Regions from separate parts of the Homo sapiens genome. Here region 2 is linked to region 1. Evidence: fine-mapped expression QTL. Tissue or cell type: whole blood. Region 1 holds a variant in brackets; the other region holds the start of a gene. All regions are shown on one strand. Distances are from middle to middle.

What was found. PIP is the estimated chance that this variant, and not a neighbour inherited with it, causes the effect.
Region 2: CBLL1 starts here. The variant in region 1 is fine-mapped to the expression of CBLL1 in whole blood (TOPMed, PIP above 0.99).

What each region holds. Positions count from the first base shown.
Region 1 is chr7:107,851,511-107,859,617 of GRCh38, reverse strand. LOC105375444 (a long non-coding RNA gene) reads left to right here. Exons shown (of 3, transcript XR_927850.3): 3 at 2,502-3,139. Among named protein-coding and RNA genes, the nearest start is that of DLD, 36 kb to the left of the region's middle. The variant C/G (reference allele first, on the strand shown) is at 4,416.
Region 2 is chr7:107,740,050-107,748,156 of GRCh38, reverse strand. It overlaps CBLL1 (Cbl proto-oncogene like 1), which reads right to left and starts at 4,015. Exons shown (of 6, transcript NM_024814.4): 1 at 3,981-4,015. The coding sequence starts at 3,993. CBLL1-AS1 (CBLL1 antisense RNA 1) reads left to right here and starts at 3,576. Exons shown (of 2, transcript NR_144537.1): 1 at 3,576-3,784; 2 at 4,754-5,404. RefSeq lists enhancers at 3,541-3,720, 4,071-4,290, 4,388-4,906, 4,907-5,426 and a silencer at 4,331-4,530.

The sequences.
Region 1 (8,107 bases):
ACAAACCATTCGGTGCTTATTCCAGGGTAAGTGAAAGATCTGTCAGGCAATTAAATAAAATCCAGTTTGTTGAGGTATAACTTGCGTACACACAATTTATCCTGTTTAGCCAACCAATTCTATGATTTTTAACACGAAACTGCCATCAGAAACAAAATATAGAAGGGTTCCATCATCCAAAAAAGTTCCCTTATGTCCCTTTATAGTCAGCCCTTAACATCCCAAACCCAGTTTCTGGTAACTACTGATCTATTTTTTATCCCTATGGTTTTGTCTTTTCCAGAATGCCATGTAGGTGGAACTTTACACTATGTAGTTGAGAGTCATGCATGTGGTTCCCTAATCATTCGTTCATTTATCGGGTAAATTTTACTGAATGTTAAATTTGTTAAGTTATCAGATAGTCAATAAATATGTATTAGGCTGGGTACTGCTCCAGGTATGGGGGGACAGGAGTGGGAACAGCAGGGACCGCAAGGATCTGAGTTCCTGCCTTCAATGAGCTCATGTTCTCATATTGGGCTGGTTTGTGGGTTGGGGGAAAACAAGCAAAAAACACATAAACAGGGCTTTAAAATAATTTAGTTTTAAGTCCTGCTAAGTGCCAGACGTGGCTCTAATAGGATAATGAGAGAGTGGTAGAAATGGGCAGAGAGGCCGGGTGCAGTGGGTCACGCCTGTAATCCCAGCACTTTGGGAGGCCGAGGTGGGCAGATCACGAGGTCAGGAGATCCGGACCATCCTGGCCAACACGGTGAAACCCCGTCTCTACTGAAAACACAAAAAATTAGCTGGGCGTGGTGGCGGGCGCCTGTAGTCCCAGCTACTCCAGAGCCTGAGGCAGGAGAATCACTTGAACCCGGGAGGCAGAGGTTGCAGTGAGCCGAGATTGCACCACCGCATTCCAGCCTGGGTGACAAGCAAGACTCCATCTCAACAAAAAAAAGAAGTGGGCAGAGAGTGCTGATTTATCTAGAGTGGTTTGTTGAGTGGATGTGAATTGAGACCCAGATAATGAGAGGGGGACAGCCGTGCAAAGATCTAGGCAAGAGGCACGCAGCAGAAGGAGGAACAAGTGCAAAGGCCCAGAGCAGGGCTGAGCTTGGTGCATTCGTTCAAGAGATAGAAAGCTGAAGGGACTGGAGTGCTGAGGACCAGGAAGCAAGTTGTGGGTCACTTGGGAGAGCCATGAAGGAGCCCAATCAGGCGGGTTTGGTAGGCCAAGACTGGAGGGTAAGTTTTTCTCTAGTTGTAAGAGGAAGCCTTGGAGAGTTTTAAACCAGAGAGTTATGTAACCTGATTTACACCTGGTAAAGATACCTCTGCCTGCTGCGTGTTGTATGGACTGTGCTTGACAGGGAGGAGAGTGGGATAAGACTGGAGGCAGGAGATGGGCCTGGAGGCTTCCTCAGTGTTGAAGGGGGAGCTGACGGTGACTTGAACCAGATTGTGGCACTGCAAATGGTGAGAAGTGTTGGAACTTACTACTTTCGTGGTGTGGTGGATAAAGAAAAAGAATCCCAAAAGCAGTTACATTTTAGTATTTATTTTAAAAGCTGACTTCAAAAATCTCATTGATGCAAATCTGGAGAAATACACAAAAGTTTAAAACTCTCTATAATACAAAGTAGGTTGGTGACTAATTTGCACAATGCAAGTAAACTAGTCTTGATACTCGAGGTCAAAAAGCCTAAACTTGGGGATTAATTTAGTTTTGCTGTATACACTGACGGAAATAATCCAGTAGCCTCCATAGCCCCCACTCCACTTTGTGTTATGAGGACAGCAGGCAGTCAGCACACATGCACTGACTCATATGATACCCACATTCAAAGAGCTTTAACGTGTTGGTTGGATTCCAAAGTAAAAAGAATAGAGACTCATTGCCATGGTTGTACCTGGTCAAGGTCACACCCCAGCCACACTTCTGAGCCATTTGGCTTAGAAATGGGAAACATTATAAAGTTGAGTCAGGAATATGGCAAACCTCCAACCAGAGTAAACTATTTAAAAAATTCACATTTTCTTGTGGCCTTCAGTTTTTTCTCCTTGACATCCTCTGTTCTATCAAGACATTAAGTCCCATGGCCCATGCAAAAGACACTTGGTGCTGTGTTCTGAGATTATCATTTTGATCTACATCTGACTACCATTTTTCCAGCCAAGACCAGCCTTCCTTGTAAATAAAGATCTGTTCAGAGGATATGAAAGAATACATATTCAAGGAGTGCTCTATTCCTTTAGCTGTTCAAAGGATTTGAGGACTTTGTTTGTTTTGAAACAAGTAACCGGCTTTCTCTAACCACGTAACCTCAACCTCACAGGACAGCCAGCAGGAAGTCAGAAATGAAGAACAGCCGATGACCTGGGTGCACTCTCTGGGTGCAGCCTGCTGTTGTCCTGTCCCCACCCTTGTCCTGTTTTTCACTTGTCTTGTTGTTTTTAAGAAAAATTTTTGTCTGCTCTGAGGATCTTCTGCTGATCTCAGGTTTTTCTTTCAGGTAATACATATGACAGGTGCTGGACAGAGCTGAACTGGAACAAGGGTCTGCAGCCATTCACAGAGGGCATGTCAATCTGTGTTCACTCAGGCAGGAGGCAGGAACATGCAGGATGGGAATGGGAAAGTAAACAGGAGTGGCCATGGACTCCTGGCCTCTTCTCTCCATGAGGTTTTCTCACCGAGAGCCTGCTCCAGGGAAGGTGGTTGGCCAAGGCCTGGGGAGCAGCTTTGTGAGGCCTAGGAAGACCCCAGAAGAGGACTTTGCTGAGAAGAGAGCAGACAAGAAGTCAGGAGTGGGGTGAGAGCAGCTTCTCCCTCTCCTTCGCACACTTGTACATAGGCATTCTCCCTCTATTTCCAGCTCCTGCACCCAAGCTATAAAAACAAGTATGGCCTACTGTAAGGCATTCCACAATAAAGACCTCATTCCTTCTGAAAACTTTTCACACTATAAGAAGCTTCTTCTGAAAGGCAAGCGCAGTCACTAGCAACTAACACTGTAGCCACTGCTATTCATCTTTCTAGGTATTAAATAACATCTATTTGAGGGCAAGAGCGGAACACAAGAGACATATCCAGAAGGAGAAAAGAGAGAGAAAATGAAAAGGGAATTAATTGGTGAAGTGGGATGTACCAATTTTTCCTCAGGGTTGCCTGTATTCAAAATACAAAAATACTCTGTGAGTATGAAAGTATTCAAAAATATTCGGTGAGCAATTTTCAGTGTACATTATTTATCAAATAAGCATTTTTTTCTGCACCTTGGCACATAATAGGTGCTCAATAAAAGTTATTGTTATTACTGGTATTAGTACTGTTGCTGTAATGCTATTACTGCATGCCATGTTAACATACTGTTCTGGGTTCTAGGGATAGAGAGGGGCAAAACCTAGTCTGTGTCCTCAAGAACTTACAGCCCAGAAGGGGGACAAGTGAGTTAGTGGCAGGTCCTGACACAGTGTTAATAAATGCTGTGATTAATGTCAGCATTAATAATATGACTAATGCTATTAATGTCAGCATAAACGCTGAGCCAGAATGGACCAGACTTTTATGGGAGTCTATAGGAGAAACACTGGCTAGGAGTGGGGCAGGGATGAGCACTGCTTTCCAAGAAAATAGTCACTGAGAGGAGTCTCAAAAGACAAATAGAAACTGGCCAGGTATATCAAAGGCTTTCTTTTTGTTAAGAAACAGGGTCTTGTTCTGCAGCCTCAAACTCCTGGGCTCAAGTGATCCTCCTGCCTCAGCCTCCCTAGTAGCTTTGACTACAGGCATGCACCATCATGCCCAGCTGTTTTTTGGTAGAGATGGGGTCTGCTATGTTGTCCAGGCTGATCTTGAATTCCTGGCCTCAAGGGATCCTTCCACCTTGGCCTTCCAAAGGTGCTGGGATTACAGGCATGAGCCACTGTGCCCAGCCAGTCAGAGTCTTCATTGCAAGTGACAGAAACAGACTGGCCATTTTAAGCAGAGAATGTATAGAGAGACTATCAGATGATCATACAATTTCTAGGAAACATGGAGAACAAGATTTGGGAAAGTGGTGCCAGTGAGGTGAGGATGCCATTGGTGGTGTGGCATCACAGACTGGCTGCTGGAAATCACATGCTGCTGCCCCCCTCACTCCTGCCAACCACCACGGCCAAAGGGAGTCTTCCTTGCCCTGCTTGTTTGTATCATTACTTCCAGATTCAATATTGCTAATAGGTGCAGCTGATGGACCAAGCCAAGGCTATCTCCCCACATCTTATCTGCCAAGGTAGCGGCAGATTGAGTGCTGGGTCTTTTCAACTTCTGTAAAGGAAGACAAGCACTGTCTCCCAACAAGGCTCACAAGTGAGGAATGTCCTCACACATTTGGAGAGGATCCAGAGGACATGAGTCAACACGTGCCAAAGACTCTCCACCA[C/G]GTGAAGCAGGGAGGAAAGGGTCTAGTGGAGAGGGAACATGACCTGGGGGTGTTGGGGGTAAGACACAGCATAATGGAGGATGAGGACAATAACTCACTTTGACTGGAGCATGGATTATGAGAGGGAGATAACTGAAGAGGAAGCTGGAAAGGTAGAGAGTCTAGACCAAAGAAAAGCCTTGTATATTCTGTGCCTGACGAGGAGTTTGGTCTCTATTTTGTGAAAGAAGACATAGCGATTTATATTTAGGGCTTTGGAGGGGAATAGAGGTGGGGTAGGGGTTGGCAAGGAAGATCAGAGTTTCGAAATTTGAGACGTGCACTCACAAGTCTTCCCAGAGAACATCTTCTCTGTAGTTCTAGGTCAAGGACATTTATTTAGCTTTTGTCATCATCTTGCCAACCATGGCTTTCCATTCTGCCTTTTTGCATCATAAGTTAACTTCACCTTCCCCAGATTGCATCTATCACACAGGCTGATTTTGGGCTATGCATTGTTCTTGTATTTGAGGGATATGTAGACACAGGTGGAAACTGGCCAGGATTGCAAGAACTGGTTTGTTTAGAGCCAACACAAACACCCAGCTACATCTATATTTTCACAATAGTATGTACACTGCACTAAGACACAGAGGCAAATTGTGAAAAGCATATATCCTCTTGTGATCTTAATTCATTGGGAAAAAGTACAATATAGAGATGTCTGCAGGTGTCACAGAGTAAAGTGGAGGCGTAACAACAATCCAGTTAGTGGGGGGCTGTTGTTCTGATAGGAATTTGTAGGCTAGAATGGGAATTTAGTAGAAAACTAGTTTCCCATCTCCTGGAGAGTCAAAGCTGTCTCCTTTCAGGCCAGGAGAAAACACAAGGATGAATAACATCTGGGGAGGCGATGCTCTGGGTGAGGCACCAGGAGTTGGTGCAATCACAGACGTTGTCTGCAGCACTTGTGTGAAAAGGCAAAGAGGAAACCCATTTCCATCTTCATCAGGGGCAAAAGAAAGAAACTAATTCAGACTCAGTTCAACATGTCTTTCCAATTCACCATCTCTCCCCTACCTGCCCAATCACACCTGCCCACAGAATGAACCATTACAGCAATCTCTGTAAAATGACCTCCGGTCCCCTAGTTCAGGAAGAGGTGATGTTCGGGGGTACATGGTTGATGAGTGCAAGGGTAGGAACACCCCCAAACCCTAAGACATCTTCTCAGTGAGCCCCACCTCAGCTGCCTCTGCTTCCCAGGTCCTTCTCTGCGTTTGTTAACGTCTGGAATTCCTTGGTTGGAACAGATAACAGCATCTCAATAAGTGAGGGTGATTCTTGTACGGTTCTTGACAGCAAAGGATGCCAGACGTTTCGTGATTTTGAGTCTAGAAAACTCTATAATTTCTTTGTGAGGTCTCACAAAAGTTTAAAGTGAGAATGCTTTGGATAGCTATATCTGTATATGTTTCTATGCAGATTTAGAACTTATGAATTTTAAAGGATTTTTTAAAAATTTAAACTAGGATTTAAAAAGTGAGTAGAATCTTCCCTGCCTTAATAGCTTCAGTTCTGACAGAATTACCTTGTTAGCCAATGAATCTAGCTGAGATTTCAAAAAGTATTTTTTAGGCTGGGCGCAGTGGCTCATGCCTGTAATCCCAGCACTTTGGGAGGCCTAGGTGGGTGGATCACTTGAGCTCAGGAGTCCAAGACCAGCAAGATGGCAAAACCCCGTCTCTACAAAAAATACAAAAGTTAGCCGGGTGTAATGGCATGCATCTGTAATCCCAGCTACTCAGGAAGCTGAGATGGAACGATTGCTTGAGTCCAGGAGCAGGAGGTTGCAGTGGGCCGAGACCTGCCACTGCACTCCAGCCTGGGTAATAGAGTGAGACTCTGTCTCAAAAAAAAAAAGAAAAAAAAAAAAAAGAAAGAAAAAAAGAAAAGAAAAAGCATTTTTGGGGAGCTAGGGAGTAAATCACTTGGTTCCTTATGTAAACCACATTATTCATTAGATAAATATCAGATGTAGACTTAAATGTCCAAGGCTTCTTGAGGAGCACCTTGGAAAACCACCCATACGTGAATGGTGAAATGGGCATCTCTGTTCCTCATCATCCTGGGTGTGGGGTAGAGTGGGGCTTATGAAAATTTCAGCCCCAATGTCAAAACACAGTGCAATGATTTTGGGGAAAACATGGCTAACAGCGTATTTTCTCAACTCAGTCACAGTTTTGTAGATACAAGCACAGTCACATGAATATAACTCACGTTTCTTTTTTTTTTTTTTTTTCGGTTTCCTTACAGTAAGAGCCATACTCTTACCCTCTTACACTGGAGTATTCTGGCTGAGCTTGAGTGATGTGCTCTGGGTCAGTTTAGAGACCAAGATATTCCTGGCACTTCTCCACATTAGGCAATTTTTTAAATGTTTATTTTTTAATTATATGCTTTACCTTGAACACTTGAAGAAAGAAAATAATTACAATGATTTCAAAATGCAATCCCTAGACTTAATGAATATTCTTTATAATTATACCCAGTCAATATATAGAAATGCATAGAAATACTAAGTCAACTAACAAAATAAGTCAAAGAACTATGTAAACTATAAATCTTAGTGATGGGGAACATACACTCAAGTCACTTATTTATCTACTTTGGTAGAGACAGGGTCTCAATATATTGTCCAGACTGGTCCTGACCTCAAGCAATCCTTCTGCCTCGACCCCCCAAAGTGCTGGGATTATAGGCGTGAACCACCATTCCCGGCCCCACTTTGTTTTTTTAAAACATGATTCACCTGTGTTTCAATTCCATGCATTCATTGCAAGAGTTAAATGAGACTACTGAGTCTAACAATGTAAACCTGAGTCTCAACACTAATGTTCATAGCAGCATTATTCACAAAACCAAAAGGTAGGAACAACCCAGATGTCCATTAATGGAAAAATTAAATGTGGAATAAACATACAATGGAACATTATTCAGCCTTAAAAAGGAATCCAATTCTGACACATGCTACAACATGGTTGAACCTTGAAAACATTAGGCTAAATAAAATAAGCAAGACACAGAAGGACAAATTTGTATGATTCCACCTACCTTGAGTAGTCAAATTCACAGAGACAGAAAGTAGAATAGTGGTTGCCAGGAGCTGGGGAGAGGGAAGACTGGGGAGTTACCATTTAATGGGTGGTTTTTGTTTAGGATGATGGAAAAGTTCTGGAGACAGATAGTGGTTCACAATGATGTGAATGTATTTAATGCCACTGAAAATGTATAATCAATATATACTTAATGATTAAAATGGTAAATCTTTTTGTTGTTGCTGTTGTTGTTGTTGTTATTGTTGTTGTTTTGTTTGAGACAGTCTTGCTCTGTCACCCAGGCTGGAGTGCAGTGACATGATCTTGGCTCACTGCAACCTCCGCCTCCCAGGTTCAAGCAATTCTTGTGCCTCAGCCTCCCAAGTAGCTGAGATTACAGACGCCCACCACCACGCCTGGCTAATTTTTTGGGTTTTTTTTTTTTTTTGTATTTTTAGTAGAAATGGGGTTTCACCATGTTGGCCAGGCTGGTCTCCAACTCCCGACCTCAGATGGTCTGCCCGACTCAGCCTCCCAAAGTGCTGGGATTACCGGCATAAGCCACCACACCCAGCCTAAAATGGTAAATCTTATGTATATTTTACCACAATTTAA
Region 2 (8,107 bases), 110 kb after region 1:
TAGTCCCTGGAGTCTTTGCTTGTTATTGTCTATAGAATAAATTAATTCTTGTCCCATGAGTAACAGGAGTATTATTTCATAGAACTGACTCCATCTAAAGCTTAAGAGTTACCTTTTTTCAAGTAGATGAAAATATATAATACAGAAAATATTTAACTTGACCTACTAAAGAAGGAAAATGCTTAAAATAGGAAATACAAATAACGTATTTTTTAATTTGTAGTGTTTTAAACATGACAAGTTATTGAACAAGGTTGTATAACTGCCCCTGCAGGAAATATTACAGTCAAGACTGATAGCCAAACCATCCACATTAAATTCAGCAAAGCCAAATTTGGAAGTAGTAAGCTAGTACCAATGGCCTCCAAGGCTACTAGGATTACAGACACACAATAAGTTCACATTCATTTGCACTTTTTCTGAACAAAATACCAAACAAAATTAAAAATGGGTCCATAACGATTATTTTAATCTACTTACTACTCTTATAACAGCTAATCCTAAAACAAAGAGGGGTGGAATTACATGGTTAGCTAGAATCTTGAGTTAGGGTTAACCCAACTTGATCAGCTTTCAACACTTCATTAAATAGACTCACAAGCTGATTAATGTATTTGATCTGTTTTCATTGTAGTTGCTTATGTATGTAAAAGTACTTACAAGCAATGCATTGGCCAAAAGAAATATGAATGACTTTTTTCCTTGCTCAAAAAGTATTCCTGACATTCCAATGAACTAAAAAGCAAGTCGTTGTAGACATATAATCAGTTCAATGCTGTCCCTCAAATATTAAATATTCAAATATCAAAATGGTTTAATCGTTTTACCTTTGTGAATAATGAAAATACCAACACTTCATTACAAGTCCTTTTCACACCATCCTGAACACTTGAGGTCTCTACTGTTGCTTGCATAGTCTACCACTTTCAAGAGCTGGCTGGCCCTTCCCACTCTGCTTCACAGATTCAAGTTCATGAGGTACAGCATTTAATAATGATAACATTCTGGGTTTCTTTGGGACTTTTTTGCTTTTTGTTGTTTTTAAATTAAGAATCAGAGCATAAAGCACTATTTCCTTTTGAATACAGTAACAAATTATAAAGTCCTTAACAACAAAAATTTCTTAGATATTACATAGAAAGTGACTAAGGACTACTGGCCACTTCAGATAAATTCACTTTAAAAAGGCACAACACTTCCATATCATATAGTTTAAAAAAGATTGGGGATTTTTTATCTTGAATAAAAAGAACCAATAAATATTTTACAAAATCTGGGATCTTTTACAAAATCTGGGATACAGTTACAGAAGTGCTAATTCTTAGAATGACCAAAGAATAAATCCAGTGTTAATGGGGAGCCCCTTGGAGTAATTTTTCTGGCAAGATTCTATTAGAACACCTTCATTTTCACATTTGAATGTTTCGGTATGATCATAAAATGGGTCATTTTTGCATAATGTTCAAGGGTTTCATCTGTTTCCCCAAGGACCTCTTAATCCTTTAATATTACAATTATTCTTTTGAGATGCCTATCCTGTCATGATTCTTCAATTATCTAGCTAAGTGGCATTTCCTCATTTGTCAAAGCCTTTGTGATTTAAACAATTATCAAATTCATGTTTACGAATTTCATGAAAACCAGAATCTTCTACAAGGTTTATAATTTTATTTCACAATCAGTGCACAGTATTTGATACTGTCTTCTGATACTAAACATCAAAGAGATTGATTCATTTAAAAAAAATAAAATAGGTAAGAAGCTAGTGTTAAGCAGAAGGGACATCTGAGAGGGAACTAATTTTTTAAGTGGTCAGCTCATTCGTGAGTATTTTCATGTTAAGATGAGTTTTACTTCCTTAGGCAATCTCTAAACTTCAAGAATTAAGATAATAAACACTCTTTACACTCACCCCTATTATGATTTCCTAACATAATAGCCTCTAAACTATGGCAGGAACTTGACTCATAATTCCAGTAGTGGGCTCAAATAAGAATTACTTTCCTAAAGTTGAATGTTTGCTATTCTAACATCAAAATCCCAGTTTCAACTCTATAAATTCCCAAACACTGGAATTCTTTACAGCCTCGTTCTAGGCCGGCTTCTCCTCTGAACACACCCTTCTTAAGTGGTCTCATCTGTCCTCATGCTTTAAAATACCAGCTATAAATAAAGGTACTAACTTCCAAATACGTATTTTCAGTGCAGATCTTTCCTCTCATCTCCACTTGGCATCTCTCCTGTGTCTCAGTAGTTATCTCACACTAGCAGTCCAAGACCAAACACTTGTTCCCAAATTCCCGTCTCACCTCTACAAAAAAAGATTGTTTTCTGCCCCAAGTTTTCCTCAGCTCAATAATGGACCCTACCTAGTTGCTCAAACCAAAAGCCTAGGCATTTCTCCTTTCTCTCACATTCCTTCAAACACCACCAGAGTATTTACTGAAGCTGCCCATTCTCCTTCATTTTCACCAAACCAACCTTCCCTTCCCGTCTACTGCAATCAGCTATTTTCCATCATTCTTACCTCCCTCTCTTACACCATTCTTCATAGAACAGCCTATTGTATTTTTTAAGAGACTGTGTTCCTCCTCCACTTCTGTTCAATGGCTTCATATTCACTTAAATTAAAATTCAAACGTTTACCACGGCTTTCAATGACCTGAATGATGTGCCTGCTGCCCTCCTTTCCAATCTCACTTCAGGACTCCTACCCTCTGGCTATTAGGAGGCTGCAGCTGACTTCACTGTATCTTCCTACCTCAGTGCCTTCGCACTTGCTGGAAATGCTCTTCCTCTTGCTTTTTTCCCAGGGCTGGGTTCTTCTCATCCATCAGATCTTAGCTTCCACAAAGACCATTCCTAACAACCCTCTCTGAAATTTCGTCCTATGAATCTCTCCACAGCACTCGTTTATTTTCTTCAAAATAATCCGCAAACATTAAAAAAATAATAAATTTAAAAAAAAAGAACGTATTGTCTGTGTTCCTCCATAAAACAGAAGTTCTATCACGGACCTGGTCCGTCTCGTTTACCATTCCATCTTCCATCTCCCGACCTATAGATATCTGCATGTATCTTGCATAAATAAACATACACACCTACATAAATAAACATACACACCTAATTATATAACCAAGTAGATATCTGATGAGTGAGGACAACTCAATACTCAAGAAAAAGCCTTTTTTTCTCTATTTGTGATACGGTCGCTATAAATGTATGGGGCACATAACTCCAAGAGCACTCATTCAATATCCAAGAACCACAAAGAAGCAAAAGCCAGAAAATACATAACAAAGGGTGGAGCCACTCTTACTTGGAGAAAAGTATGAGAATGCCTTGATTTTAAACTCCTCTTTGTAAATACCCTCAAATGATGAGTAAGGACCTCAGCCGAAGCGCGGGGCATGCTTTTGGTTTAGGTAGAAAAACTGCTCCGAGTTTGATTCCAAAAACTCTATCAGACTCCCTTCTTTCACCCCTCTAGTCCATAAAGGATCGGAGAGACGACAGGGGGTGACCACTGCAGCACCCGCCCAAAGCTGACTGAGACAGCAGGAAGTCTCCAACCCATTCTCGCCCGTCCACTCCCAGCGTAAAGAGGATTCCGCGACTCGGAGACCGCAATCTACCCGCCAGTCTCCATAACGTAGGCCAGAGCAGCTGGGCTAAATAAAACAGAGCCGGGGCTCTCCCTTCCCGAAGGCCTACATCGCCCACTGGTCCGGGCTCGGAGCTCAGCAGAACCAGAGTAGGAGCGGTTGTTGCCGGCACGGAGGAGGTAGGTACCACACCAGACGGTAGGCCAGGAAACCGCAGGCCCCTGCCGGGCACAGGAAGGCATCTGTGAGATTTCTTCTCACTGCCACACCCTAGTGTTGTGGGGCGAGCATAATCCCTTTTGCCTGCTGTGCGACCAGCCCCAGGCCGGCCAAGGGGGCTTGGAACCGGGACCCCCACTGCCTCCGCCTCCTTACCAGTGTGATCCATGATTCGGCTCGCAGAGCACAGTGGGAGCGGAAGTCAACCGCGCCGGAGTCGCAGCGAGCGCGTGCGCACTGCCTTCCGGAGGCCGGGAGGCGGAAGTCCAAGCAGGTTGTCCCAATTTTGGCCTGCAAAGACTTCCTTCTCTCGCCTCTACTATCCAACTCCTGTGAGGGACTCAGGCATAGTTCGGGCGGAGGCAGAAAGAGCGAGCGCGCGAAGAACTTCGGTATTGAGGTTGCTAAGGCTTCTCCTCATGTGCTTCAAGAGAAAGTAGCCTTTAACTGTGGAAAGGACACCAGGGGGACCGGGGAAGGGGAGAGCAGTGGTAAAAATGAGCCAGAAGCAGATAAGGCGACTGCCCGCCCCGCGGAGAGCTGCCTTCTGGGACTTGTAGTGCGCGGGGCCCCCGGAGCCGGCTGGCTGCGCAGGCTCGGCCGTTGCGCTGGCCCCACCCCGGCGGGCGGAGTAACGGTTTGGAATCCCCCGGGGTCAGCGAGCGCTTGTTTCCTCCGCCTGGTGTAGCAAAAGTGTAAACACGCGCGCTCCGGAAGGCGCCCTCCAGTGGGAGGTTGCTCAGGGGATGGCGGAGCTGTGAAACTCGGAGCTAGAAGGAAAGTCTCAACGCTTGTCTAAATTTTGCTTTGTCGTGACGAGCTACCTAGACCCACGCAGAGCTAACTTGGTATATGCCCCGGTTCCCATCTCTTAAGTCTCTTTACAGTTGAAACACGTTTATAATGCTTGACTGCCACTCACTTTCTAGGGAGAGCGCTTGTGACGCTACGAACCTCTCGAACACCTGACGACTGGGCGCCAGGGCCGGATGGAGGGTGGAGAGCCAGTGCGGCGCAGCTGCCTCCTCTTAACGGGGACACCTTGCAGGAATGTGCGGAGTGGAGCTAACGGGAGCGGATAGAAACCGAGGGAGGGGAAGAGAGCGCGAAGGCTTGGCCGGAAGGAGAGGTTAAAAAGGAAAGGCCTAAAATGAGGAAGAGAGTTACCACAACAAGCAGTACCTAGTTCCAGTTCTTGGTCCCAGGAGTTTGTGGTTGTTGCTGCTTTCATCTTCCTCAGCCAACACAAAAGGAAAGTGCCAAGGGGCGATTCCTAGGACCTTCAGTGCAGTCTCCACCTTGCGGACTTGGCTCATTTGTGTCCACTCCTTTCTCCAGCCTTTTACACTTGATGCTCTTGGATGAATAGAAAGGAGCACAATTAATGGAAAACACAAGCTTGGGAGTCAAGGGATTTGGGTTCTATTCTTGTCCTCCCTTGGTGACGACATCATTACCTTGGGTTATTCAAGCTTTCAGTGCCAGAGTTCCTATATCAATAAAAGATTATTACATTGACCTCTTAGAGAAATGTTTTCATGGTACTGAATTGCAAATAAAGTATGTGTAGCGATGTGTTATATCTTTGTAGTTGTACGGTATTATTTGTGAATCATGCTGTGATGATCAGTGCGATTTAAGTGCACCATGTTATTTGGTGATTATTTTCCTGAGATCTTGTAAAAGATTTTTCTGCTCTATATATGCAGCTTTATAAACAAGTTTTTAGGTACATTCACAACTAAGGACATTTGTGAATCAAAATTACCCCTGCTTTTTTTAAATGTAAAGTTCTGTATTGCTAGGTGGTTTTCAAGATGCTTTCAGTTTCTGGGATTATTGTTTTGGGCATTGGGGCTTGCCTAACCTTTTTCCCATACCTCCCTATTTTTCTAAATACAGTGTTGATATAGTCAGGCATTTTTCACCAATTTGGGTTTTTTTTTTTTTTTTAAGTTTTCACTTAGAAAGTACTTCTTTTTCATATTAAAAAAATTTTTTTTAGAGATGGGGCAGCCCAAACTGGAACACAATGGCAGAATCATAGCTCACTGCATCCTTGGACTCCCGGGCTCAAGGGGTCCTTATGCCTCAGCCTCCGGAGTAGTTGGGACTACAGATGCTCATCACCACCACTGGCTTTGATTTTTTTGTTCTATCATACTTAGCCTATCAGCTAACGGTTAACCTTCAGATTCATGGAAATCCAGGTTCAGAATAGTATTATTAATGTCTGCTGATGCTAATATTTAAATAATTAGAATTAAAAAGAGCTTTCAAATTGTATTTTATATAATTTAACCTGTAAGTTAGAAGTTTTGTTGGCATTTTATGGTGCATCAAGAAAATTTACTGAGAGAAGATGTACTTACTTTAGATCTGATAAAATGTTAAACATTTGTTTGATTTGATTTGACATCTCTTACTTTCAGGCATTGCTTTAGCATCTGTGGTCTGTATTTACCCCCTTAATTGTGGTTGCCTTGAATTACCAATGCAGTAGCAGTGTGATAAATTAATTTCTTTACCTATGTTTTATTACTGCCCTCTAGTATCTCTTTTCAGCGACCAGCGTGCTGTAACCAGTCACAATTTCTTTATCAAGAGTTGCCATTAATATTTATTTATAGAGCATAAGGTTTATATTGCTTATATATAAGCTATATATAGTTTAGGTGCTGACCTAAGGTTTATAAAAGTGAAAACTTACTGTAATGGGCAGTCTGAAGCACTGAGGTGCACCTTTTTATCTTACTGGCAAGACCATCTACTACCTATGAATTATAAGGTAGTGGTCTCCAAGATGTTTTGATAGCCTCCCATTTACATAGTTACTGTTTATGCTATGAGAAAAGTAAGAGGGGTATCAGAGAGCTTGTTTTCCCCAATAGCCTGTTACGGACTCCTCAGTACCAAGTAAGGACAAAAACCTTCATCTCCTAACACTCTTTCAACTGTATCCCACTGAGTGCCTGCCTAGGACTGCATAAGGCAAAAGCTGTATAAATAATGGCCCCTACTTCAAGGATCCTACAGGATATCATTTTAAGAAATATGTGAAGATCTATATAATTTAGTTCTAAGTGTTGAGAGGAAATTCAGTGCTACTTACATTTAGATAAAGTAGTGGGACTGAGAGTAGTTAGGTTAGCTTTATGGAGGGATTTAAGCTGAGCCTTATGTGAATGGATAAAATTTGGAGAGGAGGAGAGCAATAAAAGGCATATCACACAGAGAAAAGCAAGGGCACAGATGTGAGAATTGTATGGTTTCTATAGAGGACAGTGAAGAGCTTTATTTGTACTGTTGATCCATGTTTGGGAGTTCTAAAAAAATAAGTTATTATGGAGCACCTTGAAAAAGTAAGATTTCAGAGTAACAGTAAAGAAATAGAGCATTTAACAAAACCCAGCATAATATATTCATAGAAACAATATAATCCAGCAAAATATATTCAAAAACAATGAGCAAATCTTAACTTGGGGTGGGGAGATGAATCAGTTGATGAACAATCAGTCAGAATTAAAGTGTAATACTATTACACCTAGACCAAGAACAATTGACCAGGAAGCCAGCGATACCTATGATAGCCAAAATGCCATGAAGTATGAATGAATTGTTAGTAAAAAAAAAAAAACGGATCCAGGTAGTGTCCAGTATATATTAATACGTTTGATAAGCAGAAATGGAAAAGGCAGTAAAATATCCTGGTTAGATATATGCCTTATCAAGCTATGGCAGCCAGCTTTTCAAACACCATGAAAAACTGGGCAAGAGGCAGATTCAGAGAATAAGAGGGAAATAGACTGTAAAAACAGAATGTTGCTGATTGAAGGCATTGTCCCGTTCCTGTCTCGAAGGAGATTCATTCTCGTTGAGGCCTGGCAATATATGTACTCATTTGAAAAGGAACCTTTTGATCTAGAGAGGTCCTGCAGCCTTCCTTCTTTTCTGAGAAGGAAAATTTTGTTGTGGATATCCTTTGAGCTGGATAGACCTGTCCCTCCCTACAGCTTCTTTGCTAATATAATTGCCTCCAGTTCACTCCTAAAAGAATGCTTAGGGTATTAAACTGCTCTGTAGTAAGCAATTAGTCTGTATATTGTTTCCTAAACTTAAGAAGGCTTTTGTTCAAGGGCCCCTGACCCTAACCTCAGCTGCCACTCCATGCCAGTTGAAAAAGGCTTTCAGCCTTCCTTGGTGCTATGGTTTGAATGAAGGTATTCCTCCAAAATTCATATGTTGGAACTTAAACCCCAAGGTGGTGATATTAAGAGGTGGGG